Linked DNA regions of Homo sapiens: region 2 is linked to region 1. The links come from fine-mapping of genetic effects on gene expression. A gene starts in region 1. The other region holds a variant in brackets. All regions are shown on one strand. Distances are between the middles of the regions.

The links.
Region 2: its variant is fine-mapped to the expression of GSKIP in whole blood (INTERVAL, PIP 0.99).

The regions. Positions count from the first base shown.
Region 1 is chr14:96,360,823-96,366,195 of GRCh38, reverse strand. GSKIP (GSK3B interacting protein) reads right to left here and starts at 2,670. Exons shown (of 4, transcript NM_016472.5): 1 at 2,628-2,670. ATG2B (autophagy related 2B) reads left to right here and starts at 2,855. Exons shown (of 42, transcript NM_018036.7): 1 at 2,855-3,381. The coding sequence starts at 3,220. RefSeq lists a silencer at 2,398-2,747 and enhancers at 1,949-2,769, 2,690-2,984, 4,226-4,295.
Region 2 is chr14:96,267,253-96,272,625 of GRCh38, reverse strand. It overlaps BDKRB1-AS1 (BDKRB1 antisense RNA 1), which reads left to right and starts at 4,046. Exons shown (of 2, transcript XR_007064322.1): 1 at 4,046-4,257. RefSeq lists an enhancer at 2,772-3,971. The variant T/C (reference allele first, on the strand shown) is at 2,502.

The DNA.
Region 1 (5,373 bases):
TTTCTTGCAAGATCCCACCTTTGCCTTTTCATACCACCTTGTTTGTATTCCTTTTATGGCAAATATTAGAATTATTATTTACAAACATGTCTTATCTTCAAAATATATCCAGAATCCAACTGCTTCTAACTAATCATTTTCACCGCTACCGCTTTGGTCCAAACCACTGTCATCTTTTCCTTGCATTACGGTGATATCCTTCTAACTGGTTCTGCTGTTTTCACTCTGGCCCTCCCACTTCCACACCAGACTATTCTTAACAGCAGTTAGCATGATCCCATAGAAACTTAGGCCATACTGTGTCACTCCTCTCCTAAATCCACCTCACCCAGAGTAAAGGCCAAAGTTCTTTTTATTTTTTTAAGATAGAGTCTCACTCTGTTGCCCAGGCTGGAGTGCAGTGGCACAATCTCGGCTCACTGCAACCTCCGCCTCTCGGGTTCAAGCAATTCTCCTGCCTCAGCCTCCCAAGTAGCTGGGATTACAGGTGCACGCCATCACACCTGACTGATTTTTTATATATTTTTGGTAAAGACAGGGTTTCACCATGTTGGCCATGCTAGTCTTGAACTCCTGACCTCAAGTGATCCGCCCACCTCGGCCTCCCAAAAGTTCTGGGATTACAGGAGTGAGCCACTGTGCCCGGCTCCAAAGTTCTTATCAATGGCCTACGAGGCCCTACATGATGTGCTTCCTCTGCGCCCCGCCCGCCCCACCCCCCACCCCCAAACTGCCCAGCTTCTACTTTTTCCTTCACTCACTCTTGATGTTCCCTAAATTCATCAAGCATTCTCCCGTGACAGGGCGTTGCACTTGCTGTTCCCCTTGCATGGAAAACAACTCTTCCAGGTATACATGTGCCTCACTTCCCAGCTTTCTCCAAGTTTCTGCTAAAATGTAATCTTATTAAACAAGAGAATTTCTCTTACCATCTCATATAAAAATGGCAAGTCCCTTCTCTCTTCCCCATCTCCACTCCCTTTACATTGCTTTCGTTTTTCCAACAGCCCTTATCACCACAAAGCATATTATTCACTCATTTATTGTATGTCTCCTCCCTTCAATAAAATGTAAGTTCCAGGAAGGAAGAGATTTATCTGTTCACTGCTGTAATCCCAGTACCTAGAACAGTGCTTGGCACACAGAAGGCAATCAATAAATATTTACTGAATAAATGAACAAACTTCCACTTTATTGAGAGAAAGGGTCTTGCTCTGTGGTTCAGGCTGGAGTGCAGTGGCATGATCATAGCTCGTACGATCCTTTCTGATATTTGAAATTGCAGGCACTCTATGGATAGCGTCAATGCAATTATGCAGCCTCAAAGTCCTGGGCTCAAGCGATCCTTCCGCCTCAGCCTCCACAAGCAGGTACCACCATGCTTCCGTTTTAGAACATAAACTCCTTGAAGGTTCGGCCTGATTCTTGACACTGTTCACATGATCAACTGTGGTGACTTTCATTTAATGGACCTTAACAAATATTTCTGAATGAAGAGCAAGGGAATCTAAGTTACTGAGAATACTTGAGATGAGTCTACAAAGAATGAGGGAAATCAACAATCCAAGCAACTGCATACAAAGTACCCTGGTTCTAAAACGAAAAGGTGGTTGTGGAAAGGGGAACCAGATGTTTCTCCATCTACCAATATTTTGGGCTGTATTTCCAAGGCATTCATGAAAGTTGCCGAGACAGTAAACATTTCACTCCTTAAACTGGTCGTCTTAATTCACTGTGATTAAACAGCTGTATGTTTCAGGACTCTGTTCAGGTTCGTGCCCTACTCATATCATTTAATCTTCCCAACAAATCCATGCACATAAGATTTTAATCCGCTCACACTCGGCAAAGGAGGCAACGTGGGCTCGGGGAGGGCAGTGGCCGCTCAAAGTGGCTGGGCGGCTAATAGGTGTCAGTGCCGGGATTCTAACGAAGGACATCTGGCTTCTGGGCCATAGAACACCCGCACCCAGGCCTTTCGAGGTTGACTTAACTTAACAGCCGGCTCCGCCTCTGCAGGAGTTACCTCCCAAAAGGCAGAAATACGATTGCGCAGACTGCCAGAACAGCCCAAGTTCTTCACCCAGGTTCCGGCGGGGTCAGGAGCCTTTAGCATTTCTCAAGGAATGCAGTTTTGCCCACAGATGCTTCGAAAACCCAAGTTTCCTGATCGTTGCTATGACACACCCAGGATTAAGCGAGCGTATGCGAGAAGCGCTCTGCAAACCGCCAGGCAAACGGCAACGAAGAAGCTGCCTCAGAAACAATACCTGAATGAGGCGGGGGCCGAAGAACTTGCTGACAATGGGCACCGGTCAATGCTCGGGTGCGGGCGGGGATGCTCGAGAAGGGCTCCAGTCCTCCCAGCGGAGACGGCGGAGCCCCAAGTGTGCGTTTCCGGGGCGCCGAGGTCTGAGGGGAGCCGGGAGAGCCAGGCCGGCCAGACCGGCCCCCAGACCCCTCTTAACACGGGCGCGGGGCCCCTGCAGCCTGCCGCCCCTCTCGGCCCAGCCAGCTGCATGGCGTCGCGTCCCCATCCGGAAGGCCTGACGGCCCGCCGGCGCCCCGAGCCCCTAGCCCTTCTCGGGGGCCGCCCCTCGCCCGCAGCCACCCCGGCTGCCGCTCACCTGCGCGCCCGGCGTCCTCTTCTTCCTTCCTCCGGAGGCGACTGGAGCCGACCGGCGGTGCCGCCCCCTCCCTCCCCGCCTTCTTCCGCCCCGCCCCCTCGGAGCCGGAACTGCTCCAGCCCCCGCCCTTCTGCCCGCCTTCCGCGGCCCCAGTGTGGCGTCACTTCCGCCAGCGCCCGGCGGCGCGCCGGGAGTCTGGGTCTCGTGAACGCGCCAGGAGCGTCCCTACAGCCGGGAACGCGCCTCGCGGATGACAACAAATTCGTCGCGCGGCGGCAGTGGCGGTGGCTGCCTCAGCCCCTGCCGCCTCCTCTCGCGCTCTCTTGCACTCTCTCCGAGCCGGTTGGGACCCTCCTCGGAAGTCCCCTGGCCTGGGGCCAGGAGGACCCCTCTGCGTCTTGCCTCCGCCAGGCCCAGCGCGAGCGGTGCGGCGCCGGCGATGGGGTCTCCCTGAGGGACTCCCGGCACCAAATAGGGATGGAGGGGCCGCCCCAGGCTTAGGCCCCGCCGCGGCCTGGAGCCGGAGTCGCTACCCCGAGGCCGGAGCCGTCGCAACCCGCAGCCGCAGTCAGCCCAGCTGCCAGCAGTCACTATGCCTTGGCCGTTTTCGGAGTCCATCAAGAAGAGGGCCTGCCGGTACCTCCTGCAGAGGTACCTGGGCCACTTTCTGCAGGAGAAGCTGAGCCTGGAGCAGCTCAGCCTGGACCTGTACCAAGGCACCGGGTCCCTCGCCCAGGTCCCCTTGGACAAATGGGTAAGAGCTGCCGGCGGCGAGCCGGGCGGGGCTCGCTCCCCTCTTTAGGGCGCTTTGAACCAGTGCCATCCAAGATTGGTGACAGTCAGTCCCTCCTTGGGAATTGTTTGGACCCGAGTGTGACACGGCTCAGAGAAATGTGTTAGAGTGTTGTTTAATCTGTTTCTAACAAGTTTGCTCTCCTAAATCACGTGTTCCGGAAACTTTAACAGATGTAATGGAATCTACACTGTGGGAATAATTGAGTCAGTGCTTCGGGGGTCTGTGAAGCAGGCTCAATAGGTCCGTGGGAGGAGGTGACCAGAACTGTCCCTCGGGATGTGAGGGGCCGCAGGGTTTTGTGGCAAACAAACCCTGCCTTGTGGGATGACATTCTGGAAGGATTAAGGATGAAGAGGACCTTTGGATGTCAGAATCCCTAGTTATTTGTTTTGGGTTGGCTGCTTGCGCACCATGTTTGCCTTGTTTGTCATCGTGCAGCGTTTGCCATCTGGAAGAAAGTTAGGTGAAGGCCTCTTGTGCCGGTTTGCCTGCTTTTGCTTGATTATATGTTTACAAGATAGGTTTGTGTATCCAGCCTGTGAATGGTCGTCTGGCCCTAGTAGTGCTGTTGAGTTATGCCTCTTTGCTCCACGTGACAGATCGTAAAAGCAGGTGTTGCAAAAGCGCTGAAGTTGCAATTTTCAGACATTTTAAAACCTGCCTTCTACTTGTCATCTAGAGGCTGTGAATTCACTCATTGCTATACAGGTGCTTCATCTGAATTTCGACTCACCACATGCAGTCGTACCTGCATTTGTGTGTTCAATGCATAGCATTTTACTTAAAGTATATTCACTTTTGGGTTTGACAGGAATAGAGTGACTTCTACCCTTTGCCCAACCCTTACTTCCTTAGCCACAGAAAATCTTAAATTATGGAAATACCTTATTATGACCCTTAAGCGAATTTGTGCTAGAGACTATAAATCAGTATATAATTTTATCAGTATGTACCTGACATAAACTAGGGAGAGGACACAAGATAGTGGAAAGAGCCCTGGTTTGAGAGCAGTAAGACCCAGTCGCTCACCAGGAGGTGAGAGTCCTACCCCTGGAGAGACTCTCCAGACCGCCACAATTAGCCGAGTGATAATGGACTTAGCAATTCACCTGAGTTCAGTAAACACTAATGGAGCACACACTTCATCTCTGTGTCGTCCGTCTTATGGTATTGTATTCCTGTAATTCTTCCAAAAGATAGGGATTCTGAAGGATATTTTTGAATTCAACAACCCATGATTCTATACTTTTGATACAGTTATGAATAGGTTATCTTGAAAAAAGAGGGTTCAGGATTTATTAATGCCTTTTGTGGGTGGAAGGGCTTTGTATGCATTATCCTTTAATGACTTTAACCCTATAAGGTGGGCATTAATATTTCCATTTTACAGATGGAGTTAAGCAGTTTGCCCCATCACACATCTAGCAAGTATTACATCACATGGCCTAAGATCAAAAGAAAGGCAGTTAATGTTTATTGAGTATGTATTTATGTCAGGCATTGTACTAGGCACTTTCATTTGTGAGGTTTTATTTAGTCCTTATGGGAAATCAGAGGTAGTGATATTTGAATTTTATAGTTTGAGTTCAGAATCATTGGCAAAATGATTTATTACTAAACTTAATCTGAGGATGATGTTTTGTTCTTGATGGGCGGGTTTTGTAAACTAAAATGATAATGTCAAAGCATCCAGTAAACATTTGCTGTTGCTGATTTATTTTCATGTGCTGTGTTGATGGTTAGGATAAATCTTAGTGTGACCCTTAGATACAGCTGTTCAGAGTTCTGATTCCAAATTCAGTTTATTTTCACACTTGATTTTTTTTTTTTTTTTTTTTTGGTAGAGGATTCATTCTCTTGCTTTGTTGCCAAAGCTGGTCTTGAACTCCTGGTTTCAAGTGGTCCTCCCACTTCTGCCTCCCAAGTGCTCAGATTACAGGCATGAGCCAT
Region 2 (5,373 bases), 94 kb after region 1:
AGAGGAGAACTGGAATTCTCAGTGAGCAGTAGTAATGTCTCCCACAGAAGAATGAGGAAGAAGAATTTTCTGCCCTTCACCAGCTCCCAACCCCAAATCAACATTGACCAAATGGCACTTCTATTCAAAAGACAAGCTGCTCAGGAACCATTTTCTAGGGAGCACTGTGTTGGGCTACAGTACTCAGAGTAGAAGAGCTGGCACTTGATCCCAGACCTCACACTGACGAAGTTGCTCTGTCTTGGGGCAAAGCATTCTGGGCCTCAGTTTTTCCATCTATAAAATGGGCATGATGAGCTTTTTCACATCCTGTGAACTCACTGAAGGTGGGATTTTATATTTTACTTTTACAATTTTACTTTTACATGCCATGTATTGGTCACTCAGTAAGTGTTGGACACACAAAGCCATGAATGAAGAAGCTGCTCTGATTCTGTCTTAGATTGTGGAGGTCAGGACTGGAGTACTCCCTAGTCTGCCATAATTTCACCTAACCCATCAGTGGGGTTTTTTTTTTGGTTTTTTTTTTTAAGATGGAGTCTCATTCTGTCACCCAGGCTGGAGGGCAGTGGTGCAATCTCGGCTCACTGCAACCTCCATCTCCCAGGTTCAAGCCATTCTCCTGCCTCAGCCTCCCGAGTAGCTGGGACTACAGGCATGCACCACCATGACCAGCTAATTTTTGTATTTTTAGTAGAGATGGGGTTTTACCATGTTGACCAGGCTGGTTTTGAACTCCTGACGTCCTTGGCCTCCCAAAGTGCTGGGATTACAGGTGTGAGCCACCACTCTCGGCCCCATCAGTGGGTTTTAATTCCATCTGATGTTGGCCTTGTGCTTGCTGCAGCCTCCTGCCCATTCTCCAGAAGCAGAGTGATAGCTGCCTGGCTGTTGATCACAGATTCATGAGTAAGCCCAGCCAAGACCAGTAGAAGAACCACCCGGCTAAACCCAGCCCAAATGGCCAATTACAGAATTATGAGTTGAGGTGGTTGTTTTAAACCACTAAGTGTGGGAGTGGTTTTTTATGCAACATAGATAACTGATACACTGTGCAAGCCATCATCCATATTCTAGTGAAAGTGATCTCTCTGAAATGCAGTTCCAAACATGCCACTTCCTTGTTCAGTCTTCACTGACTCACATGGCCCAGAGGACAACAGTCACTCCTTGGGATTGGCATACATCTTCCAGCCCTTGATTTTGTTGGCTGAGAACTCGCGTGAGGGAAAAGTTGCAGGTGGCCAACACTCTCATTGTCCTACTTAACTTTAAGATCCAGCTCAAGGAACCCCCTTTCCTTCTGGAACTCCTTGCAGCAGACTTCGTCACCCCATGACGAGACATCTCACACTGAGGAATGATCTCTTTTCTTTTCTGCCTCCCTTACATGCAGTGAGCTCCTCAAGGGTGAGTGTGCAGTAGATGCTTCCTGGATTCTTGTTGCAGCCTCCTGCCAAGAGATCCTGCAGCTTCGCTGGGCTCCTCCAGAGACCAGGAACCCACGTCATTGAGGGCCATCAGTTCTATCATGGGACAGCTCTGCCTGTCAAAGAGCCCATCCTTAAATTAAGACAGAAAGTGTTTCTCAGGATTTTTTTCTCTTTGGTCCCTTTGGGGTAACACTAAGTGCATTTGTTCCTCTCTCCACATAAGTCTTATCTTCTGTGGTAAGCCCTCTGCCGCCATGTGTCTGGAGGGTGTGCTGTTGCATCCTCTCACCAGTCTGATCCCTGTCTTTGGAATCAGCCAAGAGCTGGACACAATACTCCTAATGGACCCTGTCCAGTGCTAAATTAAGGGAATATGACCTTCCTCATTTTAGAGGCTATACTCCTTTGAATGCAGCTGAGAGCTGGCAGCTATTTTGGCAGCTACAGTACACTGAGCCCCTTGTTGACTGAAGCCCTGAAATGTCTTCCTCTCGTACTTGCTGGGTCCCAACCAATCCTTCCTGATAGTTTTCTGTCCCCTGAAGCTCCTGAAAAGTAGGCTTGGCTTCCTGTTTACTGCCTTAAACACAATCCTGGCCATAGGGAGTCTCTGCAATCATCATGGCCACTCAAATGAGAACCCTGGCACTCAGGCCTCTTCTCTGACCTCAGCCTGAGACTGAGACCTGTCACCAGGGCCCAGCGGGCATCTTGGGTCTGAACAGAGCCCTTCAGCAGGAGCCCTGCTTACTCGGTGACCTTGGACAAGTCTGCTTGTCTCTGGACCTTGGTTTCTTCATCTGTAAGGCAGAGTGGTTGAACTTAATGATGCATTCTTTTTAAGGTTTTTAGTAGATTTGCATACAGTGATAAGAAAGATGCCTTGTACTCATTCTTTTTTTTTTTTTTTTTCTGAGACAGGGTCTCACTTTATTGCCCAGGCTGGAGTGCAATGGCACAATCATGGCTCACTGCAGCCTTGAACCCTGGGCTCTACTGATTTTCCCACCACATTCTCCCAAGTACCTGATACTACAGGTGTGCACCCCCATGCCTGGCTAATTTTTG[T/C]ATTTTTACTAGAGACAGGGTTTCACCATGTTGCCTGGGCTGGTCTTTGAACTCCTGGGCTCATGTGATCTGCCTGTCTCGGCCTCCCAAAGTGCTGGGATTATAGGCATGAGCACTGTGCCCGGCCCCATTATTCTTTACTCAGTTTCCCCCAATAGTAACATCTTACACAAGGATCGTGCCATATCACAACCAGGAGAGTGACACGGACACCATTTTTGGGATTTTATTCAGACTGTGCTTTGACATGCATTCATTTCAGTCATAGTTAAAGCCTCTTCTGCTCATAGGAGAAAATGGTTGTTGGTGCTTGCTGGGGTGGCGCTGTCCTGGTGTCTCACATACATCTCTGACCTTCCTCTTGTCCTTTCTCGCCTTTCCTTCCCTTTCTTTGCCCATTACCTCTTTCCAAAAAGGGAATAAGGCCGTCCTTTTGGGTCACTTAATTTTCACAACGACACAGTGAGGCACTGCTCTCCTCATTCCCATTTTACAGATGGGATGCCGAGTTTCGGTGGTCGGCCAGGCCCATGCGGTGGTGGAGTGAGGACTGGAACAGTGGCATGTGTGACTCAGAGACCTGGACCTCTGACCGGCTGCACTGTGCACTCTGCAGCCCCGCGGTGAGGCCCTTCTTGGGCAGGGGCCTGAGCTGGGGGTGGTCCGGGGAGGCAAGAGGATGCTGAGAAGGAATCAAGGGGGTCTGGAGAAAGGGGCTGGGCACAGGGAAAGAGAAGGGCAGGAAGGAGCTGAAGGTGCACAGAGGCCAGAGCGGAGCTCAGCCGGAGCCAAGGCTTGGATCAGCCCTGGTTGGATGCCCAGGCTCCTCGGAGCTGTGGTGGGAGCAGGGGTGGGGAGGAACACTTTCCAGGGCTGCTTCCGACCTGCTCCTCATCAAATTTGTGACTCATCTCCGGAGAGCAAGAGCCTGCCTGTGGCCATTGCAACATCAGGGAGTTTCCCCGAGGCTGGGATTTGGAGGGCCTTAGTGCCACCCACTCCCCATGATGGATTGGGGTGATGATGGGGCAGGGTGGGGGCAGTTTTCTTACCTTCCCACTGCAGAGAGCAGTGAAGGCCACATATGGCCCCTGATCACGCGGTTCTGGAGCCCAGGACAGACCCAGAGCTGGGAACGGATTGGAGTGAAACCTTGTTCTCTCTTTCTACTTGGCCCTTCTCAGGGAGAGAGTGGAAGCCCACATGGGTGCTGGAGCTGGGGATGCTGGAAGACTATTTGCTAATTCCTCCCTCCACCCCAGGTGTTAGCACCACAGGTGTGGCCTGGGCCTGGCCCCATATGGAACACGCCAGGTGAACCTATCAACCAGATCCATGGGAACTCAGATATATTACCTTTTCCCACAGCATCGATCCTTTTAGTCAAGGCAGAAATTTCTCCCTCTGTAAATGAATAACTGGCCTTCCCCACAGAAGGGCAACAGAATTCTACTGTACGGGTTTGCCAGTTTCTCTCCCACTGTGGGGCCATTTGCTGGGCTTCGGTAAACGTTACTTATGTGCGTCTCATAAATCAGGTGTCTGAGTTCTCAGGCTGTGGCTGCAGTCTACCATTGAATTACATCCCGTGAGCAATGTTGTCCGATTTCACCGGCCAGCACGTTCTTCTCGAGTGTGGGATTGGTTTTTGCAAGACCTCGAAAGGATTTTGATAAGCCACCTGCTTAAGGCCGGCTGAAAAAGAAGAAAGGAGGGCATATGTGGGTCAGCTCACTCGGAATAGAAGAGGAATCAGGTATTATTTTCCCTTTCCCACTCTCTATTCCTGCCTGTTCCTGCCTACTTTTGCCACTTTGCCACAGAGCCTTTGCCCAATGAATTCCTGCCTGGGGGCTTGGAAATCACATTGGTGTTGGAGTCAGATGAGTTGGGTGAATCCAGCCTCTGCAGTCTGAGCAGGCACTGCCTTCCTTAGCCTCCTCTTCCTCACCTAGAAAGTGGACATCCTGAAACAGACCTCACAAGGGAGTCAGGCGATTAAATGAGATGACTGAGCCTACTCCTGTGTGTGGCTGCTGAGTCGCACTGGGTGTGCTTGGGCAGGTCTTACTGCTCTCTGTTTCCTAGACTGTATGTGAAGGGATGGTCTGGATGAGGGGTTGCAAACTTAACCTCCCATAGCTTCCATGCGTGTGAACCTGATGGGAGGGCGCCCTGTTCACGGGGCCTCTGCTACACAGCACCAAAGAATTGGAGCCCCGGGGGGACCCTGGAAGGTCAACTCCAAGGGCCCAGGGATGTTCCTCTCTTTTGTTCACTGCCATATTTTCAGTGCCCAAAACAGTGTCTGACAAAGTAGATGCTTAATAAATATCTGCTGAATGAATGAAATTGAATCAGTGTTGCTGGATGTTCCAAACTTTCAAAAGAAACTGGAAAGCTGGCTCCCAATGGGGAGTTTCAGTACTGGTAACCAACTCAAGAGCCTGGGGGCTTGGAGTTTTAAAAAATACCATGTGGTTCAAATTAAACACATGTGCAGGCTGGATCTTGCCTGTTGGCTCAGCTCCAGGCCTTCTGACGACACTCTGCTCTCCAGGAAACCTGCAGGGGCTGGAACACTGATCACAGGGTTATCACTGATGAGGTCCTGGTGGCCCAGCCGCTGCCAGCCTCTCAAACCCTGTCTCCAGGCTCCAAGAACATGGCATTCTTTCCATTCCTGGAATGAATGAGTCTTTGCTGCTATTCTGTGAGGACCAGCCCTTCCCGTGCAGCTGTGGGGACTGCCATTCTCCCCATTCCCCCAAGTGTCTTGGAGTCCAGTCACTACACCCTCTCCCCCACTCCATGGAAACTGACCTTGGAATGGCCTCCTGGCCCACGGACTCTCTCCTCCCCAGGGCCTGAC